Linked DNA regions of Homo sapiens: region 2 is linked to region 1. A link means that fine-mapping ties the variant in region 1 to the expression of a gene that starts in the linked region. Tissue or cell type: whole blood. Region 1 holds a variant in brackets; the other region holds the start of a gene. All regions are shown on one strand. Distances are from middle to middle.

What was found. PIP is the estimated chance that this variant, and not a neighbour inherited with it, causes the effect.
Region 2: VAMP3 starts here. The variant in region 1 is fine-mapped to the expression of VAMP3 in whole blood (TOPMed, PIP above 0.99).

Annotation. Positions count from the first base shown.
Region 1 is chr1:7,924,835-7,932,834 of GRCh38, forward strand. The region is part of intron 7 of TNFRSF9 (TNF receptor superfamily member 9); the gene reads right to left. It also overlaps the pseudogene TRUND-NNN4-1. Among named protein-coding and RNA genes, the nearest start is that of TNFRSF9, 12 kb to the right of the region's middle. The variant C/T (reference allele first, on the strand shown) is at 4,672.
Region 2 is chr1:7,767,965-7,776,071 of GRCh38, forward strand. VAMP3 (vesicle associated membrane protein 3) reads left to right here and starts at 3,332. Exons shown (of 5, transcript NM_004781.4): 1 at 3,332-3,421; 2 at 5,478-5,547. The coding sequence starts at 3,420. CAMTA1 (calmodulin binding transcription activator 1) reads left to right here. Exons shown (of 23, transcript NM_015215.4): 23 at 1-1,742. RefSeq lists enhancers at 2,536-3,232, 2,976-3,025 and silencers at 3,259-3,501, 3,466-3,695.

The DNA.
Region 1 (8,000 bases):
TGTTCGTGTCTTAGTTTTTCACAAAAAAAGTTTAAAAAGTAAAAAGCAATTTAAAAACTTTTAAATAGATAAAAGCTTATAGAATAAGGAAATAAAGAGAAAATATTTTTGTACAGCTGTACAATGTGCTTGTGTTTTAAGCTAAGAGTTATTACAAAAGAGTCAAAAAGTTAAAAAAAATTTTTTTTAAGTTTATAGGCTGGGTGCGGTGGCTCATGCCTGTAATCCCAGCACTTTGGGAGGCCGAGGTGGGCAGATTACCGGAGCTCAGGAGTTCGAGACCAGCCTAGCCAACATGGTGAAACCCCATCTCTAATACAAAAATTAGCCAGGCGTGGTGGCAGCTGCCTGTAGTCCCAGCTACTTGGGGGGCTGAGGCAGGAGAATCACTTGAACCTGGGAGGTGCAGGCTGCAGTGAGCCAAGATCTCGCCACTGCATTCCAGCCTGGGCAGCAAGACCCTGCCTCAAAAAAAAAAAAATTAAAGTTTATGAAGTAAAAAGTCACAGTAAGCTAAGGTTAATTTATTATTGAAGAAAGAGAACATTTTAAATAAATTTAGGTTAGCTTAAGTGTACAGTGTTTATAAGACTACAGTGATATACAGCAGAGGTCCCCAACCTTTTTGGCAAGAGGGACCAGTTTTGTGGAAGACAATTTTTCCACGGACTGGGTGGGTGGGGGGATGGTTTCAGGATGATTCAAGCACATTACATTTATTGTGCACTTTATTTCTATTATTATTACTTTGTAATATATAATGAAATAATTATACAACTCCCTGTAATGTAGAATCAGTGGGAGCCCTGAGCTTGTTTTCCTACAACTAGACAGTCCCATCTGGGGGTGATGGGGAACAGTGACAGATCATCAGGTACTGGATTCTCATAAGGAGCGTGCAACCTCGATCCCTCGTATGCGCAGTTCACAATAGGATTCATGCTCCTATGAGAATCTAATGCCGCTGCTGATCTGATGGGAGATGGAGATAAGGCGGTAATGCAAGTCATGGGGAGGGGCTATAAATACAGAGGAAGCTTCACGTGCTTGCCCACCACTCTCCTCCTGCTGGGTGGCCTGGTTTCTAATGGCGTCTCACTCTGTTGCCCAGCCAGGAGTGCAGTGATGCGATCTCGGCTCACTGCAACCTCTGCCTGTCAGGTTCAAGGGATTCTCCCACCTCAGCCTCCCAAGTGGCTGGAATTACAGGCATGCGCCACCACACCCGGCTAATTTTTGTATTTTTAGTAGAAACAGGGTTTCACCATGTTGGCCAGGCTAGTCTCGAACTCCTGACCTCAGGTGATCTGCCCACCTTGGTCTCCCAAAGTGTTGGGATTACAGACATGAGCCACTGCGCCTGGCAAAGATCATATTATTTTCACGGTACCTCTTCTATGTTTAGATATGTTTAGCTACACAAATACCATTATGTTACAGTTGCCTATGGTATTCGGTACAGTCACATGCCTGACAGGTTTGTAGTATAGGAGGGATAGGCTATACCATCCAGCCTAGGTGTATAGTAGGCTGTACCATCTAGGTTTGCATAAGTGCCCTCTATGATGTTCACACAACAACGAAATCACTTAACAACACATTTCTCAGAACTACCCCTGTCATTAAGTGATATGTGACTGTACTTCACATAGTAAAGATGTCAATTTGCCCGAAACTGATATGCAGATTTAACACAATTGTTATCAGAATCCCAGCCGGCTTTTTGTAGATATAGATATTATCCTAAAATGTATGTGGAAATGCAAAGGAACTAGAATAGATAAAACAATTTTGAAATGAAATAATAAAGTGGGAGAGACTACCACCCTCTACCCAATTTCAGTATTTATGTATAACTACAGTAATCAAGGCTGTGTGGTATTGGCAGAAGAAGAAACACATGGATCAATGGAACAGAAGAGGGAAACCAGATAGCCCCACGTAATTGCAGCCAACTGACTTTGACAAAGGTACAATGAAGGATGACTAATGTTTTCCACTAGTGGTGCTAGAGCAATTGGACGTCCATAGTCCAACAACAAAAACAACAACAAAAAACTTGGCTAAAACCTCTCACACCTTATACGAAAAATTTAAAACGAATCAAGCATGGGCACAGTGGCTCACACCTGTAATCCCAGCACTTTGGGAGGCCAAGGCAGGAGGATTGTTTAAGGCCAGGAGTTCAAGACCAGCCTGAGCAACATGGTGAGACTCTGTCTCAAAATAAAAAAAAAAATTACCCAGGCATGCAGAGAGCCAAAGCCCGTGAGACGTGACCAACTCAACATTCCACTGGAGGCTATATGATCAAACAGCAAAGTGTTCATCACGAATGCAAGATGTGAGCAAACTCACACTGCCCTGCCACCAAAAAGTTTGCTGAGGGACGCTACTCCCTGGCTCCTTGAAGTTATCTATTGAGAAATCTAGCACCTATTGTTCAAAGGATGCAGTCTCACAAGCCTGCTGTGAACCAAACACCAAACGGCTAACTGACAATTACCCGACAATCATCCCCGCTTTCTCACTATCTCTTTTGCCTAATAAATACGGAGGGCTGTGTAAAGCTCAGGGCCCTTGTCCACTAGAGGCAAGGTGCCCCCTGACCCCTTCTTCCAAATATACTCTTTTGTCTCGTCTTTTATTCCCGCTTTTGCCCCCCTTTGTTCAGTCCAATAGGTCCACAGCAAGTGCTGGCACACTCCTGTAGTCCCAGCTACTTGGGAGGCCAAGGAGGGAGGATCACTTGAGCCCAGGAGGTGGAGGCTGCAGTAAGCCATGATCACACCACTGCACTCCAGCCTGGGTGACAAAGCAGAGACCCTGTCTCAGAAAAAAAAAATCAAGATTTAAATATGAAATAGAAAACTGTAAAAGTTATAAGAGATAGAGGAAAAAAAAAAACCCTAAATCTTTGAGACCCAGGACTCAGTGAAGAATTCTTAGACATGACTCCATAAATGAAAAAATCCATAAACTGGACTTCAGCAAAATTAAATAGCTTTTCTCTGTGGAAGAGCCTGAGAAGAGGATGAAAAGGCAAGCTACTGACTGGGAGAAAATATTTATAAACCATATATATGCCAAAGGACTCCTATCTGGGAAATACGAAGAACTCTTGAATCTCAACAGTAAAACAAACAAATAATCCAACTAGAAAATAGGTGAAAGACCTGAACAACACTTCACTGAAGAAGATATAAAGATGGAAAATAAGCACATGAAAAGATGTCCACCCATAAGGGAAGTGCAAATTAAAGCCCCAATGAGATGTCACTACATACCTATTAGAACAGCTGAAATAAAAATTGTGGCAATGCAAAATGCAAGCAAGGATGCAGAGAAACTCCGATGAGAATGTAAAATGATACACTTCCTCTGGAAAATAGTTCGACAACTTCTTAAAAACTAAACAAGCACCAAACATATAGCCCAGCAATTGCACTCCTGAGCATTTATCATAGAGATACAAAAATACATGTCCACACAAAACCTGTACATAATTATTCCTCGCAGCTTTATATGTAATAGTCAAAACAGGAAGCAAACAAAATATCTTTTAATGGGTGCATGGTAAAACAAACTGTGGCACAAGCATATCGTGGAATACTATTCAGCAAGGAAAAAGAATTAACCATTGAAACACACAGCAACTTGGATGGATATCAAGGGCATTGTGCTGAGTGAAAAAGCAAAATCTTAAAAAAAGTTCACGTTTGTGAAAGTTGTCAGAATCAAAATGGAGTAACTTGTGTCAAAACCCTGACAAATGGGCCGGGCATGGTGGCTCATGCCTGTAATCCCAGCACTTTGGGAGACTGAGGCAGGCAGATCACATGAGGCCAGGAGTTCAAGACCAGCCTGGCCAACGTGGCAAAACCCCGTCTCTACTATAGCCGGGCATGGTGGCAGCTGCCTGTAATCCCAGCTACTCAGGAGGCTGAGGCACGAAAATCGCTGGAACCCAGGAGGCGGAGGTTGCAGCGAGTGGAGATCACGCCACTGCACTCCAGCCTGAATGACACAGGGAGATCCTGTCTCAAAAACAAACAACAACAATAACAACAAAAAACCAAAAAACAAACAAACAAACAAAAACCCTGACAAATGGAGCCAGGGAAGGCCGTGAAGGGGGTTTCTTATGCATGCATGCCTGATAAAAACAACTATCACAAAAGATGGCAGAAACCACAACCTTGCACCAAGGCTACTGTATCTTAACAAAAAAATACTTCTGCCGGTATTGATCTTTGTAGCAAAGGATAATTGTTTCAAAATAACTTACATAACCCTCCTCAGTTTTTCTTTTTTTTCTTTTTCCTTTTTTTTTTTTTTTTTTTTTGAGACAGAGTCTTGCTCTGTCGCCCAGGCTGGAGTGAAGTGCAGGATGCGATATCAGCTCACTGCAACCTCCGCCTCCCAGGTTCAAGTAATTCTTGTGCCTCAGCCTCCCAAGTATCTGGGATTACAGGCACGTGCCACCATGCAGGGCTAACTTTTTGTATTTTTAGTAGAGATGGGGTTTCACCATGTTGGCCAGGCTGGTCTCGAACTCCTGACCTCAGGTGATCCATCCGCCTCAGCCTCCCAAAGCGCTGGGATTATAGGCATGAGCCACTGTGCCCCGCCCCTCATTTTTTCTTTTAAAAACTCGCATCACCTTTACAT[C/T]CCTGAATACACCCACCGTATTCCCACTGCAATGCTACTCCTGAAAAAATATAATCTTTTAGAGAGGCTCTCTCTATCTATGATTTAGCTTGACACATACCATATGATTCTATTTATACCATATTCCTTAAATAACAAAAGTATAGAGATGAAAGACAGATAAGTGGTTGCCAGGGGATGGTGGGGAGAGGTAGAGGACCTAACTAGAAAGGAATAGTGGAAGGAGATCTCTGTGGTGATGGATAGTTCTGATTTTATTGTGCTGGTTGTTATACAACTCCACATGTGTGATAAAGGGACAAACAACTACACACGCACACTGTGCCAATGTCAATTTCCTGCTTTGCCATTGTACTGGAGAATGGAACCCAGAAACCGCATGAGAGATGTTCCTGTCTTGGCAAATTCCTGTGAATCTATAATTACGTCAAAATTGAAAGTTCTTTTGAACGACCTAAAACCTTTTTTTTTTTTTTTTTTTGAGACGGAGTTTCGCTTTTGTTGCCCAGGCTGGAGTGCAATGGCACGATCTCAGTTCACTGCAACCTCCACCTCCCGGGTTCAAGCGATTCTCCTGTCTCAGCCTCCTGAGTAGCTGGGATTACAGGCATGCACCACCACGCCTGGCTAATTTTTTGTATTTTTAGTAGAGACGGGGTTTCACCATGGCCAGGCTGGTGTTGAACTCCTAACCTCAGGTGATCTGCCCGCCTCAGCCCCCCAGAATGCTAGGATTACAGGCGTGAGCCACAGCGCCCAGCCAGAAGGAAGGCTTCCCTGACCAGGAATCGAACCCGGGTCGTGATGGCGAGCGCGGAATCCTAACCACTAGACTACCAGGGAGTGTCCTAAAAACTTTTAAAAAATGGATTACAGTTCCATTGAAACTCACTAATTACTCATAAATACTTTTGAAAAGCATTTTATAACGAACTTTGTTGCAGTCTGGGGTGTGGATGGAACTTTGTTGCAGAGATACTCCTTTAAATCAGGATTAAGTCCAGCACTTTGGGAAACCGAGGTGGGAGGATCGCTTGAGCCCAGGAGTTTAAGACTGGCCTGGACAACACCGTGAATCCCAGTCTCTACAAAAACACTAAAAATCAATTAAAAATTAGCTGAGTGTGGTGGTATGCACCTATAGTCCCAGCTATTTAGTAGGCTGAGGCAGGAGGATTGCTCGAGCTCTGGAGTTCGAGGCTACAGTGAGCTGTGATCGCACCATTGCACTTCAGCCTGGGTGACACAGTGAAACTCTGTCTCAAAAAAACAAAAGACAAAACTGAAATCAGGTTTAAGTGAGAACGCAGAGGTTTAAACTGGAGGTGTAGACCTCAAAAAAAGAATGAAAGAGCAAACCACAGAATAGGAAAAGATATTTGCAGCTCATGAACAGCAGACTAAAAACTTCCTATACGTTAGTAAGAAAAGGACAGACAATCCTATGAGAAAATACTCAAAAGACTTGATCAGGCCCTTCACTAAAGAGGAAATCCAAATAGCCAAAATAACATGAAAAGGCGTCTAACCTCACTAGCAACCAGGAAGTGTAAGTTAAAACCACAATGAGATACAACTATCCACCCACCATATCGATAAAAATAATCTGATGATACCAAGAGTTATCAGGGGATGTGGAGTAACAGGAAACTCATTACCGCCAGGGGAGTGTAAATGGGGTCCAATCATTTAGGAAAACAGTTTGGCATATTCACGACCAAGATACACATGTTCCTTGTAGCTCAGCAACGTTATTTCTAGGTTAAAAAACAAAACCAAGCCAGAAACACGTGTTTACGTGTGCTGAGATACACGGACAAAAATATTCAAACGTCATTACATGTAATAACCCCAAGCTGGAAATGATCCCGCTGTCCATCAGTACTAGAATAGGTGAACAATGATGTCATCATTCAACAAGAGTGTGCAACAGTGGAAATCAACTAAAGATGAACTCAACATGGATGAATCTTCATGATACAACGTTGAAAGAAGAAGCAAGATACAGAAAACAGTGTGATTCTATTTGTATGAAGTTCACAAGCAGCCCAATAAAACTGTGTTATTAGGTAGCAAAACTACAGCAAAAGGAAGTTAATACCATACAAGTCTAGATGTGGTTAGCAGTAGTGGGCAAAGAGGGCTGTGATCTAGAAAGGGCATGCCAAGGGCTTCGGGAATGAGTTATGTTCCACTTCTTTACCCTGGTAGAGTTATTTGAATGTTTGTTTACAACAATTTGTTAAACTTTACATTTATGCATTTTTCTGTATAGGTCACAATGTATAAAAGTTCTATATTGCTTTAAAAAGAGCCTTTAAATACATTAGCATAATTTATTAGATAAGACTTTACTGGCTGAGCGCAGTGGCTCACGCCTGTAATCCCAACACTTTGGGAGGCTGAGGCGGGCGGATCACCTGAGGTTGGGAGTTCAAGACCAGCCTGGCCAACATGGAGAAACCCCGTCTCTACTAAAAATGCAAAATTAGCTGGGTGTGGTGGCGCATGCCTGTAATGCCTCGGGAGCCTGAGGCAGGAGAATCGCTTGAACCCGGAAGGAGGAGGTTGCGGTAAGCCGGGATCACGCCATTGCACTCCAGCCTGGGCAACAAGAGTGAAACTCTGTCTCAAAAAAGAAAAAAAAAGACTTTACTAATGCTGTTCCTGCATATATATTTTTAACAATCTCCAAATAGGCACATTCTGGTCTTACATGGTGCTTTGGGTTAAAATTTTGCTCTCAAAAAGCTCCTTTTATTATATCCCTCTTATTAAGTCTTATTAAGCCTGTTATGTCTCATCCTAATGTCCATGAAGACAAAAAACAGATTGCCTTCCATCTATATACTTTTTCAAATAAATATCAATGGCTTTTGTCTAGTGGATGCTGACTCAGTGCCAGGCACTTGCTGAGTACCTTACAGAAATAATTGTTGAACAAGTGAATGAATGAAATTCATTATTGAAATTTTTCATGTAATCCATACTGGTGCTGTAATAATTCATTTGTTAAACCCCCTTCAAGCTCCCTCTTTGTTCTCCTTGCCTTCCTCAAATATGGGTCTAAACTCATTTTAAGCCAGTTTATCAACCAGAGGGACATAGAGGGAACATGGTTTTCTGATTCTTCTTTGCCAGTGTCCTCCACACGCACACACACACATACACACACGCACGCACGCGCACACACACACGCACACACACACAGACACGCACACACACACATACACACACACACACACATACACATACATGCAATAATCCAAGGCTGCAGCATATTTAAATCTGTCATTTTTCTAGAACCGAGGTGTGCTCTTCTATATGCA
Region 2 (8,107 bases), 160 kb before region 1:
AAAATTTTTTTGCCAATGGTGCCAAGTAATGTGAATGCTAATACTGCTTAAGAAAATTAAGTTACTTTTGCAAAACAGATAATCATAAGATGAATCAGTATGTAGCTTAACACCATCCACTCACTCCAACAAAGAACACTTAGAATGATAAAAAAAAAAAAAAAAAACCTGACAAAAGAAATAGTATGAAAAGTAGAAAAATGTCACGTTTCCATATCTCCTGCTGGAAATCAGAAAATATAATAAAATTGCACAAAAAAAAAAATGAAAAAGATGCAGACTGGTCTTTTAGAGACGGCATGGTATATTACTATTTCCACATAATGAGGAGCCAAAGAAATCTGATGTTTTTAACAATTAAACTGCTAATGTTAAATTGAGAGAATAAAGTTCGTATTTGCTGATGCCAGTTTAAAATTCCCAGGTTACGTCTGAGGATCAGTTGGTGTAAAGCTGAGATGTTTTTTCTTGGTTCTGGCTGCCAACTGTGAGTTAAAACTCAAGGCTTGTTGTGAAGCCTAAAAATATTCACAAATAAGCTTTTAAACTGGTGTCTTTGGAAGGAAGGTAGATACAAAAAGATTGTGGTAAAAACTGGGGTCAGTGCTCTTGGTGCCTTTTCTATAATTGTACTTGTTTTTTAATTACTTCCTTTCACTGCCAACCTCGAATTACTGTACAGTATATGTCTTTCTGCTTGTGATCAGCTTTGACAACAGTGACAGCCCCACAACTAGTAGCCACCTGTACATTTGTAAACTGACCTGACTCCATTTTGTTTTTAAATGTGTGGGTTATGTTGCAGCTGTTGCAGTCCCCCAGATACCTATTATTTTACACAATTTGACCTATAGGAGGACACTGAGTAATTTACAAACACAACTGCATTCATAAATGGGAATAGAACGTGAAAGCCAGCTCTTTCAGAATATCCTCTATTAATACTGAATTTAGATATCTTTATTCCATTTATTATGGTACAAATAACTGATGTTTTAACCAGAGTAATGACCTCAGTGGATTTGCTTTAACCCTCACATTTTTTTTTTAATGTTTCACATGTTACATTATTAGCTGAATACGTTAGAAAATGACAGATGGTAGAGACTTCCATAGAATTAAGAGGGTTCTCATGGAGGGGATAGGAAGTAGGTTTAAAGCCTACCAGTGTAACCTACCAGTACAACTGTGAATCCTAGGCGAGGCAAAAATGCACTTCCACTGAAACGAAGCATTTCTGACCGCTTTTTCTTGGTTATGAATCTTAATTTCGAATATAAGATGATAGGTAAGCGCAGCTTTCTTGGATAATCTGAATTCCCAAGTGCCAGGAGTAGGATTTCATTATAAAATTAATAGCTAATCTTATTCTATCTCCTGAAGATTTAATTGCTATTGTTACCCATTCGAAATCAGCTGTACTGTGTGAACGAAATAAAGACAATAATACGAACCCCTCTCTGGCTGCACGGTCGCTTATGGCAGTTCCACACAGTAGTTGGCGCCCAATGGGGGGTCCCTGAGACTTGCATGTAAAACTAGTCTAGATGTCTTCTTTTTTTGTAAGTTTTATTTTTGTAATTGTGCATGTAAAGCATCATTGAATCAATGGATCTGTTGAAGAACTCAGCTGCTGGAAACCATGCAAAATGTTTTGAATTGCCCTTAAAATATGGAAAATGTTTTCTGAATGCTTTATATTCTTTCTGCTGTAAATTAAAAATGAAGAAAATTTCCCCATACTACGTGTGTGTTTTGCTTTAATATGACCGGGTAGTGAAATCTAAGGTGATGGGCACATGTTTCAAAACATATGTAATAATGTCAAGGATTTCCTTCTGATCCAGATGTAATGTTTTGACATTGAATGTTACATTGTTTCAGCTAGGTCCATGAAAGAAAAAATGTCTTCCAGCCACCATTCAGAGAGCTTTTCCCCTATCTTTCCAGGCACCTCTCAACATGTCAATCATTTGTGTAAGGCAGTGCAATTATTTGAAAGATAAAGACATTAATTTAATTCACCTTTTCAGTTACAATCCTCTAAAGTCTTCTAAAAGGCATTTTCCAGCAGATTACGAACGTCGTCCTTTCTGAGTATTGTGTCATCGCCGCTCCCTTCCCGTTCACTGCAGAGCCTCTCCTTATCTCCCTAGTGCTCCCTCTTCCATCTAATCCATCTGGCCACTACTGCCAGAGAAATTTTGCATCATGGATCTCCCACGTCCGTAAGTCAATGGTTTCCAGGGCCCACTACAATTAAATGACATTTTTCTTGTTTGTTTATCCTCTTTATTCAGTCTTCTTTTCACTTGTACCCAACCTGCACCCTCTAGGTGGTCTGTGCACACTGCGTCCATTTTCACTGCTGTCTTTGTTCATGGTGTTTGCCCAACCCTTACTTGGAAAGTTCTTTTCCACTAGTACCCAGCTCAAATCCCACCGCCTTTGTGACACTCGTTTATTCGATATATACTAACGTTTCCCTTTTCAAAGTATTCTATTTAGAGTTGGAAAAAACAGCATAGTATTTAAGTACTGTATTTTTCACTTCTCATCTAAGAGACCCACCAATGACCTATTAGTGTTTTATTTTTTGGTGTAGGTAACTATGTTGGTAGGAATATTTCAGTAACAAATATATACAAGGTAACTCACTGCGTTCAGATTTGTGCTTCCCTCCCTTCGACCAAAACCTGAGGACCTATTCTGTGCTAGGGCCTGAAAATACAGAAATAAAGGAACTACAGCCTTGATGCCAAGGCTCTCGTAAGCAGATTATAATATGATCTGCAGTGACAAATATTTGTGTCACCGATGAAAACATGAGCGGGAACCTCACCCAACACCATGTGACAAATACCCGAAATGGACTTCCTATTTCAACTACTTTAGAGAAACATGGTGCCCTCAGGATCACTAGGTTACTCTGGAACACTCAGCAGAAGCCAGTCATCTGTCTCTAATACTGTTAGAAATGGTCCCGAGCCCAGAATAACATGAATTGCCCCCACCCTCACTTATCCACGCAGTCCCTCGCCAGTGGCTAATGCACCACGTTTACAGACCACGTCCCCAAGCGCCAGCGCGGACGGCGGTGCGGACAGGGAGCTGTATTGACCTGCGTTCTGCGTTTCAGAGCCCGGACCGCCCTGGGACCCCTGTGGCCCTCAAGTTCCCAAGTGACCTCGTCCGGGGAGGGGACGTCTCGCTCTGACCCCGCCCTGGACGCACCCACCCACGACGCCCCCGCCCACTTCCGGCGCGCCCCCTCTTCGCCCCGCCCACTCCCCCGGCTCCGCCTAGTGACGTCTTTGCCCCGCGCCGCGCCGTCCCACCCATCTCCCTGGCCTCCGGTCCCAACTTCGCTTCTCTGCTGACCCTCTCTCGTCGCCGCTGCCGCCGCCGCAGCTGCCAAAATGTGAGTGACGCTACGCGACGCGGGCGGCTTCGGGCCCCGCAGGCGGCAGCTCGCGCTGGGACCGCCATACTGCCCAGTTGCCGCCGGCCGCCACTCGGACGCAGGCCGGGGCTGCGCGGGGATCCCGAGGCCTGGGGGTGGGCGGTGGCCCTTGGGTCGCGGGCTGCAGACGGGCCGGGCGGGTCCCGCGGCCATCGGGCGGACGCGGAAGGGGCAAGGGCGGGGCGGCGAGACGCTTCCCGGAGGAAGTGAGCTGCCCGCCCGCAGCCCGCTCCTCGCCCCTTCCCTTTCTAGTCCCCGACGTCCCTGAGAGGAATGGGGACGACAGCCCTGGTTCGGGAGCGCCCGCTCTCGGCCCGGTGCTGCGCTGGGCCCCAGAAGTTGCGAAAGAAAGGACCTCGGCCCTGTCCTGAGCCCCTGTGGGCCGAAGAGCTCCTTGCCTAGCTAGGGGCATCTGCACTGGAAAGATCACTTAACCGTGGGCCTTCGCTCTCTTAAGCGAAAGCACGTTGCAAACCCCTGCTTCCAGTGGTAAGACTCAGAGAATGCTAATGGTTAAGAATCACAAGGACTCCCTCTTCCACCTCCATTCTGCTCATTGCTCACCGTCGGAGGAAGCCCCGGGTTTCTTCCAGGAGCTGGGGACCCCCCTCGAATGTTCCTGCTGAGGCTGCTGTGCCAATAGATCACAGTGGTTAAGATCTAGAGCCAAGGTACACAGGACCTGATCTAAAAACAAGCTGTCCTGCAGCCAGCTGTGTTGACTCTCTAAACCTCACTTTACTCATTTGTAAAATAGGAGTAATATTCCCCTCAGAGAGTTATGAGGGTTAAAGGAGGAAAAGCATGGAAAGAGTCTAGCGCCACGGCATGGTCCTTACTTATCTACCAGATACTAAACTCCGTGAGGACGGTGATGAGATCTGTTGTAGCCCTGGTCATTGACACATGACAGATGTAAAGTGACTGTTCAAACAGCCCATCAGACTGTTGTATACCAAGGCACATGCTAGGTGCTATCTAGGATACAGAGAAGAGAGTAAGAAGACCCAGGAACCTGTGATCTATTCGAGGAGGCGGGACTTTATACCTGAAAAACCAAAGTGATACTTTCCAAGTAATGGAGCCAATAATGACTTCAGAGTCAGAGTGGTTAAGAAAGATCTGCATGGGGAGAAATAAAGCCTTTGATGAAGATTTTAAAAGATGAGTACCTTCCTGGGCCGGGCGCGGTGGCTCATGCCTGTAATCCCAGCACTTTGGGAGGCCGAGGTGGACGGATCACTTGAGGTCAGGAGTTCGAGACCAGCTTGACCAACATGGTGAAACCCCGTCTCTACTAAAAAATACAAAATTAGCCGGGCGTGGTGGCACATGCCTGTAATCCCAGCTGCTTGGGAGACTGAGGCAAGAGAATTGCTTGGACCCAGGAAGCGGAGGTTACAGTGAGCCGAGATCGCGCCATTGCACTCCAGCCCGGGCAACAGGAGCGAAACTCCGTCTCTCAAAAGAGGGGGAAAAAGAAAGAGTACCTTCCTAAAAGAGGAGGCATTTCTTCAACACACCTTTCCACTCACACCACCCACTCCCTGCATCCCAGTGTTCCTGACTCTGTTTCTGTAAATTAATCTATTTTTCCATATTGGAAAAAGGGCATTCTGTAACTGTTTGTAACTATGAAAACAGTTCCTTCCACAATGAAAAGATCAGGAAAGTACTGAGTACATTCAAGCAGATGTGTGCCTTAGAACAAGTTTCAAAAAAGGACAGTAGAGCTTACCTATCGTGGGATCAGATACTTCAGGGATACAAAGTAGGTCCTATTAAAGCTTAACATTTGTCCCTTTAGTAGGTGGGACAGTCTTGGAAATTATAGAGAAATTAGAAGAAATGCAATTAAAACTTTCGTTCATTGCTTCAGGAAGAATTTCTTTTTCTGTTTTAGTTCTAATGTAAGAGATTGTTAACAGTGAGAGTCCCGGAGTAACATCTTTATACTTAAGAAAATGTATTTGGAATCGTAATGTACTCATGCTCATGCCTTTACATGTTCCAGGTCTACAGGTCCAACTGCTGCCACTGGCAGTAATCGAAGACTTCAGCAGACACAAAATCAAGTAGATGAGGTATTGCTCTGAAATGTTGGAAATATGAATTTTAAACAAATATGAGTACTCTGGAAATCTGTTTAGAAAAAGTATCATCAAAGTGTGAATGTAAAGCAAATTCTGACTGTATCATAATTGTAACGAAACTTTGCTCCCTGCTGTGCTGGAAGATCTAATCTAAGCAAAAGTCAGACTTTCTAGGTTTCACGCTTGTTTTCCTGTGATAGAAACCTGCTCATAACATTTAGCTCAGGAGAAATAAAAAATCATATGCCTAAAACATGAACATCACTCCCTGAGTGCATTCCCCAAGAAGCACTTTATAAAATCGGATAATACAATGTTAAGGATTAGGTCTTTAGATTGCTCAAGCCAAGACCAGTTCTTCTGATCAGATTTTTTTATCAAAATGCTTTGTCTTCTTACTAATTGTCCAGCCTGAGCAAGCCTCTCTGTAGAATTCATCTCTAATGGTTGTCCATTGACACACACAAAGTAGATACTGTCAAACTCCATTAGCTCAGCAAATCTCTGTTTGTAGAATTCTTGAGCTAGAGGACCTCCATCTTTTGTTCTGCGCCGTATGTGGAGAACCACAGCAGAAGATTGAGAAATTCAGACTAGTGTTTCCACATTCCTAAAAGCCGTCACTGTCCGACAAATATATTTCGGTCTTTCTGCATTTAGCTGCCCTGAAAAAACAGTTAAAGTTATGTCAGATACTGTTGTTAAATAATATAGTAATGTTTTGATCTGATGGTTTTGTTCATGAACTTATACAATTTTAGATTTTCACAGTAAGAAACCCATTGTAATTCTGTCCTGCCTGGAAATTCTGTTTACTTACAAAATCAAATTGGATTTTTTTTTTTAGCCAAAGGAATTTTAAGGAGAGTTGTTTTTTTATTGAGGCAAAATTACCATAACATACAACTAAACATTTTAAACTGTATATAATTGAGTGTTATTTAGTATATTGATAATATTTTGCAACCATTACCTCTTTCCATTTTCAGAACTTTTTCATCACCCCAGAACACCTCATGCCCATTTAGTAATCATTCACTATTTCCCCTTCCTCCCATTCTCTGGTTACCTCTAATCAGCTCTCTCTTTCTGTGGATTTGCCTGTTCTGGGTATGTCATATAAAAGGAATCATACAATGTGTGGCCTTTTGCATCTGCCTTCTTTCACTTAGCACAAAGTTTTTTGCATTCATTCAAGTTGTAACGTGTTGTACCGTGTTCCTTTTTACGGTTGAGTAATATTCCATTGTATGTGTATACACAATTTGTTGAGCCATCCATTTGTTAATGAGTCTTCGAGTTGTTTCCACCTTTCAGCAATTATGAATAATGCTGTTATAAATATTCACAGGAAAGATTTTGTTTAGACATAGGCTTTCATTTCTCTTGAATGTATACCTAGGAGTAGCATTGCTAGGTCATAGTAGCTGTATGTTTAATTTTACGAGGAACTGCCAAATTGTTTTCCACAATAGCTGCACCATTTTATTTTCCCACCAGCAATGTCCAAGAGTTCCTGTTTCTCCACATCCTTGCCAACACTTGTTTTCCATTTTGATTATAACCATCCTACTGAGCTCTTTGGGTTTTCATTTGCGTTTCTCTAATGATTAGTGATGTTAAGCATCTTTTCATGTGCTTATTGGCCATTTGTATGTCTTTGAAGAAATGTCTGTTCAGGCTTTGCCCATTTTTTAATTGGGTTGTTTGAGTTGTGAGAGTTTTTTATGTATTCTGGATATTAAATCTTTCTTTATCAGACATGTGATTTGCAAATACTTTCTCCCATTCTGTGGCTTGTCTTTTACATTTTTTTTATTTTTTTTATTTTTATTTATTTTTTTTGAGACGGAGTTTTGCTCTGTTGCCGAGGCTGGAGTGCAGTGGTGCAATCTCAGCTCACTGCAGCCTCCAAGCCCCAGGTTCAAGTGATTCTCCTGCCTCAGCCCCCAGAGTAGCTGGGATTACAGGCGCCCGCCACCTTGCCCGGCTAATTTTTTGTATTTTTAGTAGAGACAGTGGTTCACCATTTTGGTCAGGCTGGTCTCAAACTCCTGATCTCAGGTGATCCACCTGCCTGGGCCTCCCAAAGTGCTGGGAATATAGGCATGAGCCACCGCACCTGGCCTGATAATGTTCTTTGATGCACAAAAGTTTTTAATTTTTATGAAGTCCAATGTATCTGTTTTTCCTTTTGTTGTTCTTGATTTTGGTATATAAGAATCCACAGTCAAATCCAAAGTAATGAAGATTTACCCTTATGTTTTCTTCTAAGAGTTTTATGGCTTTAGCTCTTACACTTAGATTATTGATCCATTTTGAGTTACTTTTTGTATATAGGGTGAGGTGGGGATTCAACTTCATTCTTTTGCATGTTGGCTCTTCAATTGGCCCAGCACTGTTTATTGAAAAGACTGTTGGATGGCCTTCGCACTCTTGTCAAAAATCAATTGGCCATAGATGCTTAGGTTGACTTCTAGACTCTCAGTTCTATTCCATCAGTCTATATGTTTGTCCTTATGCCAGTATCACACTGTTTTGATTACTGTAG